4 linked regions of the Homo sapiens genome follow. The protein of the gene in region 3 purifies or fractionates together with the protein of the main gene of each other region. This does not show direct contact. Each region holds a gene or a part of one and is shown on either strand. Other genes may lie near its edges.

What was found. The genes of interacting proteins can lie anywhere in the genome.
Region 1: the proteins of PRPH2 (region 3) and ITPRIP purify together in Homo sapiens (affinity purification with mass spectrometry; one large-scale study listed by BioGRID and IntAct). This does not show direct contact.
Region 2: the proteins of PRPH2 (region 3) and PODXL2 purify together in Homo sapiens (affinity purification with mass spectrometry; one large-scale study listed by BioGRID and IntAct). This does not show direct contact.
Region 4: the proteins of PRPH2 (region 3) and ACSL6 purify together in Homo sapiens (affinity purification with mass spectrometry; one large-scale study listed by BioGRID and IntAct). This does not show direct contact.

What each region holds. Positions count from the first base shown.
Region 1 is NC_000010.11:104,311,278-104,315,488, forward strand, and holds part of ITPRIP (inositol 1,4,5-trisphosphate receptor-interacting protein precursor), read right to left. Parts: coding exon 3,131-4,211; 3' UTR 1-3,130. UniProt on the Homo sapiens protein: Enhances Ca(2+)-mediated inhibition of inositol 1,4,5-triphosphate receptor (ITPR) Ca(2+) release.
Region 2 is NC_000003.12:127,627,031-127,632,539, forward strand, and holds the start of PODXL2 (podocalyxin-like protein 2 precursor), read left to right. Parts: upstream 1-2,154; 5' UTR 2,155-2,189; coding exon 2,190-2,259; intron 2,260-5,509. UniProt on the Homo sapiens protein: Acts as a ligand for vascular selectins. Mediates rapid rolling of leukocytes over vascular surfaces through high affinity divalent cation-dependent interactions with E-, P- and L-selectins.
Region 3 is NC_000006.12:42,711,946-42,717,023, forward strand, and holds part of PRPH2 (peripherin-2), read right to left. Parts: intron 1-5,078.
Region 4 is NC_000005.10:132,001,104-132,006,181, forward strand, and holds part of ACSL6 (long-chain-fatty-acid--CoA ligase 6), read right to left. Parts: intron 3,561-5,078; exon of another isoform or gene 3,231-3,560; coding exon of another isoform or gene 3,212-3,230; intron 2,709-3,211; exon of another isoform or gene 2,470-2,708; intron 1-2,469. UniProt on the Homo sapiens protein: Catalyzes the conversion of long-chain fatty acids to their active form acyl-CoA for both synthesis of cellular lipids, and degradation via beta-oxidation.

The DNA.
Region 1 (4,211 bases), on a different chromosome or scaffold from region 3:
CTTCCAATAGATCTGTAGGGAAAGTAGTCCACTTGGGTTTTCTTTAACTTTCCATTAAGAAAGAAAGTGAGAGGGCTTCCTCAGCTAGGGGTACCATCAGTCACTTGGGGGAAATCTTTAAAAATCGAGCCTAGCCTGACCACTCCAGACTGGATTCTGAGCACCATGTAGGTTCAAGGCGGGGTCGGGGCAATGGACCAGGTTGTCTGGGTGATTCGGATGACACCCTTGATGATGAACCAGAGCTCCACCCCCAGGTTCTCAACGGGGGCTGTGCTTCAGCCAGGCATGCAGAGGGGCTAGAGCTTTTGAGGATATAAGGCCCTTCCCCAACATAACCAGCCTCTTGGCCTAGGGGCCAACTCTATTCATTTCACCCTTGTTATTTTGCAAAGCAAGTGAGCAGTTGCTGGGGAAAGTCAAGCATCCTTGGGAAAGAGACTCTGGGGAAAGAGGGCAGGGTTGTCCTTAGTGGAAAGGCCAAAGTCCCCTAGAGGACTCAAAATCCTCTATTTAAAATACAATCTCTTTCTTTAAAACCCAAAAGCTTCCTGTTAGTTCCAGCTCCTATATTTCTCGCTGACATTAGCTCTGTGAAATAAGGTCTTAGGCTGGAATCCACCCTACAGCCAGCTTTCAAAGGCCCTTTCTGGAGCCCTGCGGGCAGCACACAAGTTGCCTCAAAGACAGGGTAGAAATGTTCTGTTTTGTTATTTTTTAAAGTCTCCTGAAAGTGTAAGAATAAAAAGGGAGTGAAAGCTTCTGCTTTGTCAATAGGAAATCCACCCCCCTGTCCCCAACTCTGCCCTGGGAGCCTCACAGATTTCCTGAAGTTAAAAACAAACAGTGACCATTTCTACTCCTTGCAAGATTTAATTCTTCCTTTAATATAAATAAGGCAGCATGAAACACCAAGAGCCCCACTGCTTTCTGCTTTAGAAGCAGCTTTGGTGCAGAAAAGATTCCCGTTTCCCCACCGAGTTCTGTTGTCTCTGTACACACAAGAAGCCAGAAGATATTTTTTTTTCAGTGAACTTTCTCCTGGAAGCAAAGGAGAAGCTATGGGAGATCCAGGCATGGTTTTGGCTTCTGGAGGCTGTTTTTTGGTTACTGGGGTCTCTTCAAAGCAAAACGGGATCAGGATGAAGAGGGGGAAAGGCATGGGCCATAAATAAATAAGGAAATTTGCCCCGATTCTACAAATGCATCTGATGGAATGAGGAGGGTCAGGCTGTGAGGGATTGGGGGTAGCTCCAGGCTGCTGTTAGGGACACACTTGAGCTGGTTCATTCCCTGGAGTGCCCCGCAACTGCGTCTAGGGAGAGGCAGGCCCAAGCACATGTTCAGTCTAATTCCAGCTCACACTGGAAGGCTTCCTATAGGTTTGGTTGCCCTGATCACAGCCGAGCTGCCCCACCAGGAATTAACCCTGGTGGGCAAAGGGTCCATCTTCTCAAGCTTTCTGAGGCTGGTTGAGAGCACTCCTGGGGATGGGGGAAGGATCTCCTTCCTTCAGTTTGTGGGGTAACTGGGCACCCCTGTCAAGTTGGTTATGCTCTCGGGAAGGCATGGCCGGCTTAAACCCTGGAGGAACACGGTATATTCTTGACTCCCTGGCCCCCTGCAAGGGTAACTGAAGTAACGGTGAGATAGGAAATCTCAAAGGGCCAGTGAAGCCACAGGTGGAAAAGAGCCTTCCTGATCCCCCTGAACCAGACCTGGAGACGGAGCCCAGCTCCAACCACAGAGCTTCTGCCAGGCTCTTTGGGTCTGGGTCATCTGTGTGGTCAGCAGTGCCCACACAGAAGGGGTGGGTTCTGTGCAGTGAGGGAGCCCCGCTGGAGTGAGGAACTAGGGGCTCAGAGCCTGCAGACTGGAGCTAGGTTTCCATAGTTCTTGCTTCCATGCACACCCTGCCCTAGGATTGGGACCCTGAGGACAACCTGGGGCTATGACATCCTTGGCCCCTGATCTCTGCAACTTTCTCTGAACTGGGCCAGACTGCAAGCCAGACACCACCACCCCGGGTAGCATTTTTGAGCACCTCATCGAAGGAGTCTACTGTCTTACAGCAGAGACTTCGCTGCAGGACGCAGGGCCAGAAGAGGTTGAGAGGCTTGGCTCTGCGCACAGCCTCTGGGAGTGCCATGGCCTCAGGTGCCTTGTGGTTGCCAATGAAGAAGTGATAGAGTTTCTTTTCCAGCTGTCCTTTGCCACAGTCACCCCGTGTGTCTCTTTCTCCAGGTCAGCTTCCACCTTTAGCATCTGTCCTCCCCCTACCACAATGATAGTCAGAAAGACCAGCTTTGGAGAGAATAAAGAGAGGTGGGGGGCTGCTGAGCTGGCACCCAGTGTGGCAAATACCCACCACGCTCGGGACCCAGTACGTTGGGGAAAGGACAGCAGAAGGGGGTGCACCTGAGTGAGAAGTGTAGGGTGCAGCTGAGTGAGAAGTGTAGCTGAAAAAGTGGCTAATTGTGTTTCTCTATGCCACCAAGTACCCATTTCCGTGTGACAGAGACGTTAGTCATTTGGGCCTCGAATTTATACAAGGTCTTTTCTCCAAATAGTATAAAAAAGTGGCAGCCATGGTGGGACCACTATTGTGCAGGATGCGGATCAAAGGTGGACATTCCCATATCTGTCCCTGTTAGTGCTTTGGCTGCAGATGGTCAGGCCAGAAGCTCCTGGGAATAGGGGTGCTGGGTCTTAACACGGTTCCCTGTCAGCATTCTTGTAGATCCTCTGCTCATATTCAAGTACAGACTGGATCTGGGATTCAAAAAGAATTACACCCAATCCAACATTTGCATTGTCTCTAACTCAGGGTCCACAGCGTGTTCTGCCACCATCTTGGCCATTCATGGTGATCCAGAAGTAAACTGCAAGGGATCAGTCCCTAAACCCAAATAACAGCTTTACCAGCAGATCCCAATGGTATGAAGCAAACCAGCTTCCCGTTGAAATTCTGTTTCCTCTGCACTGTAGGGCTTGGCTTCCTGGCAGGCTGAGCACGGCTCCCACGAAAGCCCGCCTTGTCCCCAGAACAGGGCTGGCAGATGCCACCAGGGGTGTGAACGTGAGGGATGCCCTCATCTTAGCTCGAGGATCCCACATTCTGTAAAAGACGTCAGCTTTTTGGGGTAGGCTGGTCTGAGGGGACATGTAGGGAATACTCGCTAATGAGCGCTGGGGCATTCTTGAGCATCTCATAGAAGGAGTCCAGTGTCTTACGGTAAAGGCTTCGCTGCAGGACGAAGGGCCGGAAGAGGTTGAGGGGCTCGGCCCTGAGCACGGCCTCAGGGAGTCCCATGGCCTCAGGCACCTTGCGGTTGCCGATGAAGAAGTGGTGGAGCTTCTTCTGGAGCAAGCTCTTCTCCAGGAAGCACAGCAACTCGTGCAGACGAGCGTCCAGCTGCCCCGCCTTCCAGTCGGCGGCCTGCCGGAGGAGTAGGAGGTGCAGTAGGGCCGTCTTCAGGTGGTAGCTGCTGAGCCCGCTGGGACCGGTCAGGCGGCTCTGCTTGGAGAGCAGGAAGGATGCTATCTGCAGGCAGCTGAGGTGGCAGGCGCCCTCGGGCAGTGCCTTTAGTGTCGTCCTGAGGAAGTGTCGCTCATAGACAGCAAAGGACAGGAGCCAGTCTGTGCTGGAGGCTGGGGTGCCCTCAGAGGGCTCCCTGGGAAGGTGGGAGACAAAGTACAGGTCCGAGTCATCACACTGGATCACAGGAATCAGGTTGAAGGGCATGAACTTCCCTGAACGGAACTTGATCTTCAGGGACCCCGGGCTGTCCAGCTGGCCAAAGGCCAGGTCGAACTCGTACTTGTGGGCGATGCCCTTCCAGGCTCTGGTGAGGGCCGTCTGGAACCACTTCATGACCTGCATCGTGTCCAGGTACAGGGAATCTGTGGCACACAGCAGGTTCTCCATGTCGCCGCAGGGAGGCGCCATGCTGTTCCTGCCGTGCAGGAGACACAGCATGTCTTCCCCGAGCTTGGTCTTGCCGCAGATGCAGCTCAATGTGTCCCCATCGGCGCGGACCACCTTGATCTGGCCGTAGCCCTGGCGATCCAGGGGCACTGAGCGGCCGGAGCACCAGAGCTCTGGGTGGAAGCGGTAGGGCTCGGGGGGTGTGAAGGGCACGAAAAGGTGGCACAGCAGTGGCCTGTCCACCTGCCAGTTCTCGTACATGCTGTCCACGCCAATGAAGTCC
Region 2 (5,509 bases), on a different chromosome or scaffold from region 3:
GCTCAAGTGATCCTCCCACCTCAGCCTCCCAAGTAGGTAGGACTACAGACATGCACCACTACACCTGGCTAATTGATTTACTTAGAGATGGGGGTCTCACCATATTGCCAAAGCTGGTCTCAAACCCCTAGCCTCAAGTGATCCATCCTCCTACCTCAGTCTCCCCCAAGTAGCTGGGATTCCAGGCACATGCCACCACCCCTGGCAGCTTTAGAGTTTTCTTCATTTGGAGCTTACATATCTGGTTTGGTTTATTCCAGTTTTTAATAATTGTTGCTGTGATTGCGATCTTTTCTCCTACTACATTTTCTAAGTGGTTATTGAGGATACACAGAAAAGCTATTGATTTCTGTACGTTATCTTTTATTCAGCAATCTTGCTGAACTCATTGGTTTTCAATTATTTTGCCAACTGATGATCTTGCATTTTCTAGATAAACCTGCAAATAATGAGTTTTCCCCCAATACTTTCATCCCATTTCTTCTATCAGGCCTTGTTGCAGTGTCTCTTATAGAATATTCAATCATTGTGGTGGTAGTGAGGATTATTTTGTTCCATTCACTTAAAAGAGAATGTTTCTAATGTTTCATCATTAAGTATGGTTTCACCATTAAGTATGATAATAAAGGTTTCTGGGAGATACCCTTAATGGAATTGAGGACGTTTCCTTCCATTTCTTGTTTGCTTCTAAGATCTTTGTTTCTTGTAACAGAAAAACAAAACAAAACACAACAAAAAACCAAAGGGATGCTCCTTTCATCCTCAGAGGAGGAAAGAAGAGGGAAGCTGGGTCTAGACACACCCTGGATTTCTCTTTTCCAAGCCCAGCTGACAGCCACTTTTCTAGTACCCCTAACACCCACCAAATAAAAGGTGCTACATTTTGCTCATGTTCTTTCTTTTGTCTGGAACCCATTTCTTCCCTATGCTCCTCCACCCCAACTCCTATTTCTCCTAAGTATTAATATTTAGTCTGGAAGAGTCCCGTGAGATTATCTCCAATGTCTGATGCTATACCCCTGCATAGGGGGGTGGGGATATACTTTGAAAAAGCATATTCAAATAACGATTTGTTATTTTAAAGAAGTGTTTTCCTAATATGGTATATATAAAGTAACATTCCACAAAATTGTGGTTGCTGTATATTTAAGCTGCAGTACTTCTAAAAGGGTAGTCGGGGTTTTTCTCTCCCTAAAAGAGGCTGAGCTTCTTTCTAACTCAGGAACTCTATCAGTGAGCTTTTCCCTCTGCCTTGTAAGTTCTCTCCCAAACCCAATCTCCTACCTAATACCCACTCATCCTTCCAGATGCCAGCCAGCTTACCTTAAATGCTGTTTCTTCAGGAAGGCAAGCATAAGGTTCCCCTCTGTGCTGTCTCCTAGCCCCTTATACTCCTTAACAGACCGACTACCAATTGCAATCATAGGACCATATGTGTGTCCATTTTGTTTTTCAGTCTGTTTTCTCTACGAGCCTAAACTATGAGGACGAGGGATGTGCCTGTTTTATTTACCACTACAGTGCTTGGCATATTAAGGATCTTCAGTTGCCAAAAGGGAGCACATGTTAGAGAAGTCAGCACCTCTCTCATAATCTAAAACCCCCCAGTTAGCAAATGGGGCAAGTGGGGCCCAGAGGTGAGAAGAGATTTACTCAAGGTCTCGGAACCAATCTGATCCTGAGCCAGACTGCCTAGCTCTAAAGTCCAGTTCTTTGCTCTCAGGTTCTCCTTCAGGGCTCACCCAATCTAAGTACCCTGAGAAGTCTTTCCTTACCCCAGGCCTCTGTCCACCCTCACAGTCATTTCCACGCGTCGTCCTCGTCCCATCAGTCCCATCTGCCACAGCTGCCCACTCTGCTTCCCAGGGAACGGGTGACCGCGCGGGGAGAGAGCGGCATCCGGGCGCGAGGTGCGAGGCCCAGGTCTGCGGGCGGCCGGGCCAAGCCCCCGAGCCTCGGCGGTGCTGATTGGCCGGCCTGGCGGGGGGGACGGGCGGAGGGACGGCCGCCCGCGCGTCCGCTTCGTCTCCGCGGGGGCGCGCCCGCGGCACGCGGCCGGGCGGGGCCGGGCGTGAGTGACGGCCATGCGGACCAATGGGGCGGGCGCGCGCCGCCGCCGCCGCCCGCGCGGCCCCTGACGCGGGCCCGGGCGCCGCGCCGCTGCGGCTGCAGGCGGCGACGGCTACACCATGGGCCGGCTGCTGCGGGCCGCCCGGCTGCCGCCGCTGCTTTCGCCGCTGCTGCTTCTGCTGGTTGGGGGTGAGTGCGCTCCGGGCCCGAGCGCGGGAGGGCGGGCGGCGGCGTGGGCGCGGTGCTGGACAGCTCCCCGGGCCGCCAACAAAGGGGCCAGAGTGCGGCGCCGCCGGGAGCGCGCGTGTCCCGGCCGGGCCGCGGCGCCGCCCCGACACACGCGCACGAGGAGTGGGTGCGTGGGGGCCGCGGCGGGCGCCTGGCGTGCCGGGCGACCCCCGACAAAGGCGCGGCGGTGAAGCTGGGACACAGCACCGTGGCCCCCACGCCGCGGCTCTCAGGGGCAGGTGCGCAGGCTGCTGCCTCGCGGGCCGGGGGGGCGCGCACGTGTGGGTGTGCATGTGTGTGCGTGTGCTTGTGTGTGTGCGAGTGCATTGTGTGCCTGCGCACTCGGGGGAAGAGGCGTGTGTGACAGCCACGCGGGGAGGAGGCCGCATTGTGAAGGTCCCAGGGGCCGCCTGCGGAGTGTGGGGCGGGTACGCTGAGGCGCGGGTGGCTGTTTACGCGTGGCGTTGCCGGGAGGGAGTGTGAGTGTGTCACGGTGAATGGGTATTCTCTCCTGTTCTGGGCGACTCTATTAGGAGCTGACAAAAACGGGCGTACAGCCACGGAAGGCCCGTGACAGCACACGGCGGGAGGCTCCCACGCAGCTCACACACGAGGGAGGTGTGAGACTCAGATGTGTGGTTTCCATTCAGCAGCCACGCCGGGCGGCGGGCTGTGTGGGTGCGTGGCGGGCTGGGGGTGTGGCACAGGTGTGAAAGGGATGTGTCTGCCTGAGAGAGAAAGAGACGGGCCTCCTGATGGCTTCCAGCGCAGACGGGGATTTAGTGGAGGGGGTGTGTAGGGAGGTGGGCATGGGGTGTGACAGCCCATGAGGCAGGCGGCCACTATGGAAATGGCGGGGAGAAGGGCTGTCTGCAAAGGTGGGTCAAATAAGGTCATAGCTGAGCAGCTCCTGCACACACTGGCAGAGCAGAGGGAGTGTGTTACGGTGTATGTTAAGGTGTGACTGGTGCTGCTGGAGGAATACCCGGATGAGGAAGTGTGCATGTGTGCCTGTGCACACTCATCAGCCAGCTGTAACTTCACTTCTGATGCACACGTCAAAATAGCGTCCTAGTATGATGTGTGTATGTGCATGTAGGAGTGTGTATGTGCATGTAGGAGTGTGCACAGGACATTTCCCACGCAGCTGGCCCATGAAGACACAGGCACTTTGTGTCCAGATGTGTGTGAGTGAAAGAGAAACTAGTGAAGGGTCTCTATGGGAAGGGAGGAACAGTCTTTGCCTGAGGTGGGCCATGAACCTGGGACTCAGAGTGGCAGAATCCCAGGGTAAATGGCTGGGAGGGGAAAGTGGTCCCTCGCACATTCCTGTGCATGTCATGGGAAGGCTCAGTTCAGGGAGGGTACATTTTCTCCACAGTCAGTCTAGGGATGAAGAAAGGCCCTAGGTGGTGTGCACAGAAAAACATGTCCATCAGTGTTGGCTCAGACACTCACACAAACCCACCTGTATTCTTTCACGCCGTAAATCCTCTTTGGAAAAAGGCGACATTCAATAAATAAACATCAATTGATTGGTCTGCTATTTCTTTGTGTGACAGTCATAAACCAGAACTGGCCAGCAACGTCCTCATGGACCCAGGCCCAGCTGTAACTGCCCATGTGCTTATGTGACCAGCTGTGAGGACTGCAGGCAGCCTGCCTCCCGGCTCCTCTCTCCCGTGCATGCTCTTCATGACGCACTTCTTACCCCCTGCTTGGAGGGCATGTGCGTGTGTCTAGCAGTGTGTCTCTTTCTTACACACCTTTGTGTGGAAGCCCTTCAGGGACCTGTCAGCATTGTTTCTCAGGTGCTTACAGAGTGGAGGTAGCGTGACTGTGCTCAGCAGTTCCTGTTGTCGCTGACACTTAAGGGTGAGGAGCTGTGTGACAGATGCTGCAGGGCCCCTCCCATGTTGGTGTCTGCCAAGAGCTTAGGGAGACTGGACTTCAAAGACCCTGCTTAGGGGAGAGGTGGGGTGTAGCTGATGGTGGAAATCAGAAAGGAGTTTTGCACCGGGAGCAGATCACAGGGACTGATTTGAAAAGGTAAGATAAAACATGAGGATCGCTGGGGTCTTGTTTTTTTCACCTCCCCAAATGTCAGCCTGCTTCCTTTGCCTCCTTCTGTGTTTGTTTGGGTCAGATTTTCATTTCTTTGAGGCTGATCCCCTAATCCTTTTCATGTGCCATCTTTTTCTCTCTCCTCTGTTGGGTGTGATGATGTAACAGAAAATTATAGGTGCTAGAGGGAAAAAGGAAATCAATCACACGCAGAGTGTAATTCTGAAATTTTAAGTCAGGTGGGGTCTCAATTAAGGCAGATTAATTATTAAGTGCAAAACTAATTATACACAGAATGGCTATGTCTCAGCTACTATTTTGGTGTCATCTTATGGTGGGCAAGTTTGAAAATAAGTAACCTCTTGTAATTACTTAAATAAATACCCATTGCCAAGGCCTTTGAAAATATCAAGTTCTATGTAAAGACAAAACAGTCATTAGAGGGAAAAATAACTTTAAGAAAATGAAACTGTTTACTGGAAAAGGAATGAAAAACCGGGAAAATACCAGATTCCTTTTTCTTCAGTAGGGTTTTCAAAATCTTTGCCAATTCCTATTAGACCATTGGGAAGGGAAGACAAAGAAGGAAAGGGAGAGATGTTAGAGGAAGGTTATGGGTTCCTGGCTTGACAGGTGGGAGAGCTCAGAGAGGTGGGGGCTCACTGGAGCCATGGAAATGACAGGGAAGGGGCCTAGCAAACACACCAGACCACAGTACTGTGCACAGACAGCTGGACTGACTAGAAAGTGTTTTATCCCCCAGAGTGGGGAAGGAAACAGGCTCCTCTGGGCACAATGACCTGGAGAGGGCAGAGCAGTCTTCTTGAGTTCCAAGCCATTCCGAGGAGCCAGAGTAGGGTGTAGACGGCAGCAGCCTCCCCGCCTGCCATGCCACAGCCTCTCCCTGCCATGCCACAGTTCAGCTCCGAGAGAGAGTGCCAAGGTTTGAGAGACAACCCGTGTTTAATCCTTCAGTGGTTTTGTAGAGAGTGAATTTCAAAATTCTTAGGGAGAATCAGTTTACACTTTTCTAACAAGGCTGAAGTAATATCTTTCCCAGCATACCTGCTGGAGGTTGGAGCATGCAGATACAGATCTCCAGTTCATGGCCCTCTCAAAGGCAGGCTGCCCGGGTGCCCCGGGAACC
Region 3 (5,078 bases):
AAGAAGTGTTGTAAACTGACTGAAGACCTCATGTCCTTCCTCATGTGCTACGGTAAGATACACAGAGCGGCACTGTAGGAAATGTTCTTGCCACAACTGAGCCTGATCCAACCATACCTCGACCCAGACTACTGGTTTATGAGGAAATACAGGGGACAGAAGAACAAGTTAGACAACACCATTTGGCTGCAATTGCCCAACTCCAAACTATGGGGGATTCTGCAGGACACGTGGCCCAGTTTCTCTCACACATATGGTATGAAAAAGGGGACAGTTTTCTAGTAAAACAGACAGGAAACCAAACAACCAAATGCAAAGCATGGACTTGGTTTGGATCCTGAATTGACCAACTGTAAAAAGCATTCCGAGACTATCAGGGAAAACTGAACATAGACTGGGTATTGATTGATATTGCCATTAAATCTGTTGACTATGACTGGTCTTGTGCTTATGTTCAGCAGAAACAAAAGGGCAAAAAACAACTAAAGCCTCTTTATCTGTTGGAGATGCCTATTAAAGTATTTACAGGTAAAAGGAAAGTATGTCCAGGATTTGCTTTAGGATATTCAGAAGGGGAAAATGTGTTTGGGGGAGGGTAGTATAGATGAAACAGGCAAAATATTGATATTTGTTCCTAGGTGATGGCTAGGTGATAGGGACGGGGTTTCACCATGTTGGCCAGGCTGGTCTTGAACTCCTGACCTCAGGTGATCCACCCGCCTCAGCTTCCCAAAGTGCTGGGATTACAGGCATGAGCCACTGTGCCCAGCCTGTTTTTTCCTTTTTTTTTTAGAGACCTTGTGCTCAAGTGATCCTCCCACCTCAGCCTCCAAGTAGCTGGAGTTACAGGTGTGTTGCCACCACACCTGGCTAGGTGATGGCTACATGAGAATTAATTATAATGAACTCTCTAATTTTGTGAAAGCTTGAGTTTTTTCTATAATAGAAGTCGGAAATGCAATAAAATAAGATAAAAGAGCATCAGTTGAGAACTACAGGCCTGGCACAGTGGCTCATGCCTGTAATCCCAGCACTTTGGGAGGCCAAGGTGGGTGGATCACCTGAGGTCAGGAGTTCGAGACCAGCCTGGCCAACATGGTGAAACCCTGTCTCTACTAAAAATATAAAAATTAGCCAGGTATGATGGTGGGCACCTGTAATCCCAGCTACTTGGGAGGCTGAGGCAGGAGAATTGCTTGAACCCTGGAGACAGAGGTTGCAGTGAGCCGACATGGTGCCACTGCACTCCAGCCTGGACGACAGAGTGAAACTCCATCTCAAAAAAAAAAAAAGAGAAAGAACTACAAATCTCTTTCACTGATACCTTGCTCTGAAAAGACAGAGTCAGTGAGGGAGACAGCATTCCTGGACTTGGCTCCTCCCTCTGAGAGCCTCCTCCAAGTGTAGCAGGAAGTGTGTCCCCCTCTTCCTGGCCCACCCAGGACCACCAGGCCAGGGGAGGGAGATGTGGGAGGTTGAAGCCCAGTGACAGCCCCATTTACCACAGGCGCCGCAGAGCCCGGAATGGTGTTTCTAGTTTCTGTGGGGCCACCTCGTTATTATCTGAGACGTTGGCACAGAAGCACTGGAATCCGAACCTAATCCATCCATGTTTTCCAACCCTGCATCATCTCTGCCCACCCCTTTCCCTGTCCTTCTTGGAGAGGAAATGGAGAAGAAGAAGACAGGGAAAGGCCGGGAGCGGTGGCTCACACCTGTAATCTCAGCACTCTGGGAGGCCGAGGCAGGAAGATCACCTGAGGTCAGGAATTTGAGACCAGCCTGGCCAACATGGAGAAACCCCGTCTCTAGAAAATTACAAAAATTAGCTGGGCGTGATGGTGGGTGTCTGTAATCCCAGCTACTCAGGAGGCTGAGGCAGGAGAATCGCTTGAACCCGGGAGGCGAAGGTTGCAGTGAGCCAAGATCACACCACTACACTCCAGCCTGGGTGACTGAGCAAGACTCCATCTCAAAAAAAAAAAAAAAAAAAAAAAAAAAAGACAGGGAAAGACAGGGAGAAGAGGGAGAAAAGCAAGACTTCCCGTACCCCAAGCAGCCTGGATAATTTGAGGTTTCTGTCACTCAGTGAGCAAACATTCATTTAATGCCGAATGTATGCAAGAGGTACTTTAACATCGCTGGGAAACAGGAGAGTAAGGTGAAAAGAGCAGAATTAAAATCTGACATGCCATATAATGGAATATTATTTCACCATATAAAGGAATTAAGTTCTGATATACGCTACAACATGGATTAATTTTGAAAACACTATGCTAAGTGAAAGAAGGCAGACACAAAAGGACAAATGTTATATGACTCATTCATATGAAATGTCCAGAACAGGGAAATCTATAGATACAGAAAGTAAACGAGTGGTTACTTAGGGCTAGGGGGAGGGAAGGCTAGGGAGTGAAAGCTAAATGGTGTAAGGTTTCCCTTAGAAGTGATGAAAATGTTCTAAAATTGATTGTAATGCTGGTTGTCCGACTGTGAATATACTAAAAACCATTGAATTGCATACTTTTAATGGGTACATTGTATAGTGAGTGAATTATATCTCAATAAAGCTGTTTTTTCTTTTTGTTTGAGACAGGGTCTCACTCTGCTGCCCAGGCTGGAGTGCAGTGGTGCAATCTCAGCTCACTGCTGCCTCAATTTCTTGGGCTCAGGTGATCCTCCCACCTTAGCCTCCCAAGTAGCTGAGACTATAGGCACACACCACCACACCTAGCTAATTTTTGTATTTTTTTGTAGAGATGGGGTTTCACTATGTTGCCCATGCTGGTATCGAACCCCTGGGCTCAAGTGATCCATCCACTTCAACCTCCCAAAGTGCTGGGATTACAGGTGTGAGCCACCACATGTGGCCGAAGCTGATTTTCTTTTTTTGTCTCCCCCACTTCCTATTGTGTGATCTTAGACATGTCCCTTAACCTCTTGGGCCTCAGATTTCTCATATATAAAATGGAGCTAATAATACCAGCTGGGTGCAGTGGCTCACGCCTATAATCCCAGCACTTTGGGGCTGAGGTGGGTGGATCACTTGAGGTCAGGAGTTCGAGAGCAGCCTGACCAAATGGTGAAACCCCATCTTCACTAAAAATACAAAAATTAGCCAGGCGTGCTGGCACATGTCTGTAATCCCAGCTACTCAGGAAGTTGAGGCAGGAGAATCGCTTGAACCCGGGAGGCGGAGGTTGCAGTGAGTCGAGATCGTGCCACTGCACTCCAGCCTGGGTGACGGGGCAAGACTCTGTCTCAAAAAAACAAACAAACAAACAAAAACTAAAAAAGATTAAGACAAAAACTTCCCAGGAGGAGTTTTGTGCAGGATAAATGTGGGTCATTTCCCCCTCCCAAATGACTTGGCAACACGGTCATAGGCAGGTTGGGGATGGGGTGCAGTCACTGGGCTACTCCCCTAAGACAGAGCAGCCAAAACTCAGGTGCAGTGGCTCACACCTGTAATCCCAGCAATTTGGGAGGCCGAGGCAGGCGGATCACTTGAGGTCAGAAGTTCGAGGCCAGCCTGACCAACATGGTGAAACCCCGTCTCTACTAAAAATACAAAAATTAGCCAGGTGTGGAGGTGCACGCCTGTAATCCCAGCTACTTGGGTGGCTGAGGCAGGAGAATCTCTTGAACCCAGGAGGTGGAGGTTGCAGCAAGCTGAGATCGTGCCACTGCACTTCAGCCTGGGTGACAGAGTGAGACTCCATTTCAAAAAACAAAACAAAACAAAACAAAAAACTCTTGTAAATTCCCATAAAAATATGGAATTGTTTCTGCCTGATCTTATTCATTAGATCAGGAATCTTCAGGAGCCAGTCCTGGATCTTAAAGATTCCCCTGAGAAATCTCCAAAACCTGCCCGCCCCTCCATGCTTACTGAGGCAATGCACTCTATCCTCAGGTTTCTGGGGGGCCCCAAGGAGGGGCACAAGTGGGGAGGTCCTAGGGAGGCCAGAATGCAAGCACCCAGCTCCTCCTCTCAGGAACTGGACTGAAGATGCCAGAAAGTGAGGACCTCAACTTTCTCTAGCCCAGTCCGGTGAAGTGCCCACTGCACAGAATGGAAAGTTATTCCAGGAACAGAGCCTGCAGAAATGCCTGGAAATCACTGTCACCAGACACCGCCCATGCCCAGTCTGTGTCAGAGGAGGATCCCTGTGGATTTTCTCCAGGCTACCCATGCTCAGACCAGCTCATTCTCCTGGGATCGCTTCCCCACAGTCCTCAGGTCAAGTAGGAGAAAGAGGCTCACCCGAACCTCTTTGTTGGCTCATCCAAATTTGATGGGGAGAGGGGAAACAAAAAAAAGGAGAATTCTGCCTGGCATGGTGGTGGGTGCCTATAATCCCAGGTACTCTGGAGGCTGAGGTGGGATGGTTGCTTGAAACCAGGAGTTCAAGACCAGCCTAAGCAACAGAGTAAGACCCTATCTCTATTTTTTTTTTTTAAGAAAAGAATTTTTTTTCTTTTTTTTAAGGCAGGGTCTCACTCTGTCACCCAGGCTGGAGTGCAGTGGCACAATCTTGGCTCACTGCAGCCTTGACCTCCCAGGCTCAACGGATTCTCCCACCTCAGCTTCCCAAGTAGCAGGGACCACAGGTGCATGCCACTGTGCCCTAGCTAATTTTTTTTGTTTGGTTTGGTTTGGTTGGTTTTTTTTTTTTTTTTTTTTTTTTTGAGATGAAGTTTCGCTCTTGTTGCCCAGGCTGTAGTAGAATGGTGCCATCTCAGCTCACTGCAATCTCCGCCTCCCAGATTGAAGCAATTCTCCTGCCTCAGCCTCCCAAGTAGCTGGGATTATAGGTGTGTGCCACTACACCTGGTTAATTTTGTATTTTCAGTAGAGACAGAGTTTCACCAAGTTGGTCAGGCTGTTCTCAAACTCCTGACCTCAAGTGATCCACCCGCCTCAGCCTCCCAAAGTGCTAGGATTACAGGCATGAGCCACCTCACCGGGCCTTTTTTCTTTTCTTTTTTTCTTTTCTTTTCTTTCTTTCTTTTCTTTTTTTTTTTTTTTTTTTTTTTTGGTAGAGGTGAAGTCTCATTGTGTTGCCCAGGCTGGT
Region 4 (5,078 bases), on a different chromosome or scaffold from region 3:
TTTCTCCAAATATCTTCAGAGATGCTTTTAATATGAAAGCTTCCTTTAATGCTTCTCAAGGCAGCCTCTGGGGCAGGAAATCCAGTGGTCTGTGGGAAATCCCACAGAGTGCCAGAGGCATAGAGCTGAGGGAGTAGTTTCACCCCAAGCAGTGTGCAGCCCAGTTGCCAGGTTGAGAAATGCACAGCCTTCACCATCACACATGTACAACCCTGACCTGCAGAGGTGCAAACACAGCAGCGCACACTTGCCCAACACCTGCCCTCTCCACACAGGGATTCAAGCTTCTCTCTGCTGTGAGAGAAGGGTTTGCTCTCCATTTTCCTCTTGGGTTTTAATTAGATTCACAGAACCACATAAGACCAGGGCAGAAATGGAGCAAAGAGCCTCCCTGACTTGGGAATTGCCAGGTGGGACCCACTGTACATCCCCCATGAGATAGAGGCCCAGGATACGATACGGGGTTGCCAGGTTACATGGTGGCTCACCTGCCAAGCTTCCCCAAGGAGCCTGATCATAGCTCTGATGGTTCAATTAAGCCCCTTGAATGTAGAAAGGCCCAGCTAAGGCTGGCTGTGACTGAGTACTTTACAGAGCCACCTGTTGCAACTAGCCCAAGCTCACTGTGAGCATGCCTCCCTTTAGCAGCCTCCACTGCCCGCTGGCCTCCCCATCCTCATGACAGTACCTCTCAAAAATCTCACTCACCCTAAGCCCTGCTCAGGGAATGTGGGTCCACATTCCTGATGCTAGCACCAGGAAGCCAGGCACAAACAATGCTTTCAGGAACTTTAAAATATGAATAGCCTTGAGAACAGAGGAGCAAACAGATACACAGTGTCTTTCACACGCTCTGAGATAAACGTTGCCCTCACCATGAATTAGGCAGGACAAAGTTCTCAGAGCAAAGAGGGACAGCAGGGGCTAAAAAAACAGCAGTAGTCCCTTTGGAAATATTTACAGGGTATGATAACCAGGACTGATGGTGTGGACGAGTTCAGATCCTTCCACGCCAAGCCCTGGGACAGCAGGCAGGACCCTAGGAATACTGACCAGGGTCACCATCACCTCACAGGCACAGGGACACTCCCTGGCCAGGCCCTCCTGTGCAGGAAGCCAAATCCTGTGGCTGTAACACGATCCTTTGCCTTTCCGGCCATGTCCACGTTAGGACTGCTGGTGTCCCGGCCTCAGGAGCAATGATTCATTTCTGCCACTGGCTCAAACTTAGGACACACTGCAAACTAAGCTTGAACCAGTAAAGGGCATATGGGCTGCTCATGGCGAGGCCATGCACTCAGAGCTCAACTGCAGGTGGCTGGGGTACAAGCAGGATGGGATGCGACCTCCTCCAGCTAGAGGGAAGCTCCTTGAAGTAGGGAGGGTCCTGCCAATATATGGTTGGGGGTCACTGAGGTGGGGGGAGCAACAGAGGGATTTGCTTGCCTGCTTGTTCACTTAGGAGCCCTGCTGGTCTCCTGGGGACACGTGCTAGGGGAGAAATGCACAAAAGACAGAACCTGAGACATCCTTAGCCAGGGAGGGAGAACAAGGAGAGGATCCGAGCTGGGTGGGAAAGGGTAGAGAACAGGGCTATCGAAGAGGGACAGAAGTGGGTTGGTAAGTCACAGGAAGAGCCTGTAAGATGTTGGGGCCCCTGGCAGGAGCCCTCACACAGTGGCGGGAAGGAGGCAGAGGCCTGTCTGCACTGAGGACTGGGGCAGGAAGCTGAGGCTGGCAGGATGGCACTTAGCTATGGGAGAAAGGAAAAAGATGGTGATGGGTACTGTATATCTGCCTCATGCCTTCAGAGTCACAGCCCACAAGCTAATGGCACTCAGCCCTGGGGATGCAAAAGTGCCCCAGGCAAGCTGTGCTCCTACATCCTTGGCAAAGGGATTGCTGCTGCAGCCAGGATCCGGCATGGCTCCTTCACCTACCATTCCAGAGTCACTGAATTTTTTTGTAGACTAGAAAGTGAGCAAGACAAAAAGAGTTTTGCCCTTGGTTAAGGGCACATTTTCTGGCAAATTTGGTAAATAGCTGAATATTCTGGCATCCCCATAGTCTGACAAAATTCCTCTTCTGAATGCCTCAAGAAGAAACAAATCTGAATTTCCTCCAGTTTAGCAAAAGGCTGTGCTGGTCAACGGGAATCTGCCACCTCCTGAATCCCCCCTCTGGAGGTCAGGCGGCACAGCAGCTGCAGCCTTAAGCTGCTCTCCCTCCGGCAGCAAGCGGTCAAGTTCTGCTGTTGGCCTGTGAGAGCCTACAGTGTCCACAGAGTTAACATTAGACTGGAGCGGCCCAGCCCTCAGCGGGCAGGAGCACTGGGAACTCAGGCCTCCTTTTCAAGGCCAGGATGAATGGGAAATATGCAAATGGCCGCCTCCCAGGAGCGGCAGGGGAGGGCCTGCTGCTGGCAGGAGGGCATCACTCCACTTGGGTCTGTCACATGAAAGGGTTTGTATTCCTGCCGCTGGCCGGCTCCTGGCCAGGCTGGGGCTGTTCTCACCAGAAAACAAAAATGTCTTTCAGACCAAAGCAAAACGAGGCCCCAGCTGGCCCAGGCAGGCCATTGGGCGTTGTTCACACTGACCCACTATGAACACCAATCACTGGGGCTCTCACTTTGCACCCACTGGAAGGAACCCATCATCTTTGGAGACGGAACTGGAGGCCTCGGTGGCTGCTGAGGAAAGCACTACGTAAGTTCGGGGGGATGGAGGTGGGATCCAGAAAGAGGGTCAGCCCCCTCTGAGGCTCTGTTGGTTTTGTGCTTTTCGAAAACAGTAGTGGCGGAATCTGGAGTAGCACCCTTTTTTTGGATAAGGAAACTTCAGTTATTCTCACAGTGTTGATGGTAAACATGGAGAAAGAAATGGGAAGAAAAAAGTGCTGGTACACAAGAAGACCCTGCAGTGCACAGAGAGGACTTTCAATAATGGAGGGCACGTGTGTCCTCTGCCTGGTGCCCACACTCCTGCTGCCACAAGTGCCCTCGAGTGGGAGGTGGGGATAAGGGCAGCCCAGAGCCCCATGTGCGGGATCACTAGCTTCCAGGGCTGGGGCTCCTTCTTCAACCAAGGCTCCATGCCAAGGTCAGGCTTCTATCCTTTTTTTTTTTTTTTGGCTGACTTTCAGCAGCCAGAACACTGCTTCTCTGACACCCCATGGTCACCAGGAGCTGCCTATTAACCACAGCACAGACCTTGTGCCCTGTGGAGCATGGATGCCACTCAGACTCCCACTACCAGGAGAAATAGCACAGCAAGATCTCAAGCACACATGTGGCCGTTGAGCCTGAGAGGACATCTAGGACAAAACCACTTTGGAGTTGATTTTGAACCAACAGGTGGGTTGGTGGATGCTCCACAGATCTCCTGAAATCCAAGGGAGATATGTCTTGTCAGCCTCTGGGGCTAAAGGAAACTGGTATTCGTTTGGGCCACACAGTATCTTCATGAAGCCAAGGTGCCAGGCATGTCTCTGTGAGAGGTCATGGAACTGTCCAGGGAGCAGAAGCAGGAGACAGAGGAGACAGGACACTTCAGAATGACCTAGAAAAGTTGGTTCCACAGGTCATAGCCTTCCATATCTGGTCTGTGGCAAGGAGATCGGGGACACATGCACCCAAATCCCCTACCAGCCTACTGGATGGGGGAAGGCCCAACCTCCATTTCTCTCTAAACCCTCCCTGCCACCACAGACAGACCTAGGCTTAGGGGAGTTGGCCTACAGAATATGCATGAGTTGGCTGGGCATGGTGGCTCACACCTGTAATCCCAGCACTTTGGGAGGCTGAGATGGGTGGATCACCTAGATCACCTGAGGTCAGGAGTTTGAGAACAGCCTGGCCAATGTGGTGAAACCCCGTCTCTACCAAAAATACAAAAAAATTAGCCGGGTGTGGTGGCAGGCACCTGTAATCCCAGCTACATGGGAGGCTGAGGCAGGAGAATCACTTGAACCCAGGAGGCAGAGGTTGCAGTGAGCCAAGATCACGCCATTGCACTCCAGCCTGGGCAACAACAACAAAGCTCTGTCTCAAAAAAAAGAAAAAAGAAAAAAAAATGCGTGAGTTGAAGGTGTCCTCAGAGAATCACATCCAGCCCATCTGCTGGAAAGCACAGTCACGATGAACACTGAAGTTCTCCAGCCACTAAGCAGGGTCCTGGGGTCTATGTGGCTTCATGCAGCATCAGCTCTAGTGGCAGGGCAGAGTGGCCAGAGCTTCCCTTCCAAAGCAGAGGGGTCACTGCAGGCCTGGATGGGTCTCCACTGAGTCTACTTTCTCCATACTGACAATTGTCTTCCTCTCACTGGCCTAAAGGCCTTAAGGCCTTACTCCAGCCAACCTCCCTGTCCAATCTCACTGGCCGGCTCACATGCCACCTTGCTGATCTCTGTCCCAGCTCTAACTGTCCTTGCTGTGTAGCCTCTAGCTGCCCTTTCTATCCAATATCTAGTTGACCTCACTGTCTCTCCCAGTGACATTTCTGCCTGTTTATGAGGCAGGATCTGCAGTCAGTATCTAGAATGGTCTGCAGCAAAGCTAAGGCTGGGACAGGGGTGCGTGGGCAGGAGGAGTCCCACGGGGGAGTCTCAGCCCCTACAACAGTCCATGAGTTGGAGGGAAAAGCAGAGCTTTGTAGCAGAGCTGAGTCTTGATCAGTCCCTTGGAATCCACATCCTGCACTGGTGGGCCAGGCTGTGCTGAGAGTGAGGCGGGGTCCCAGGCACTGGTCAATAGGGTCTGTCCCAGAGCTGCCCAGTCAACCTGGGCCTACCTACTCACTCATTTCTCCAATAGCTATCAATTACTAAGTCTGTTCCTGGCCCTAACAGGTGCCAGCCCACATTTGCTTATACCAGGGGCTGAGCACTAAGATGCTGATTGTTCCCTCACTGGCCTGGCTTCCTGCTCTAAATTCCCAGGAGACAGTGATCTCGGAACACAAGCTTAAATGGGCAGATGGCAAATCAGAAGCCATTCCCAACTCCCCCAGACGCCCCTACTACATGCCTGGCTTAGGTGCAGGGAGAGGAAGGGTATCTCTGGGAAGAGCTGGCAAATA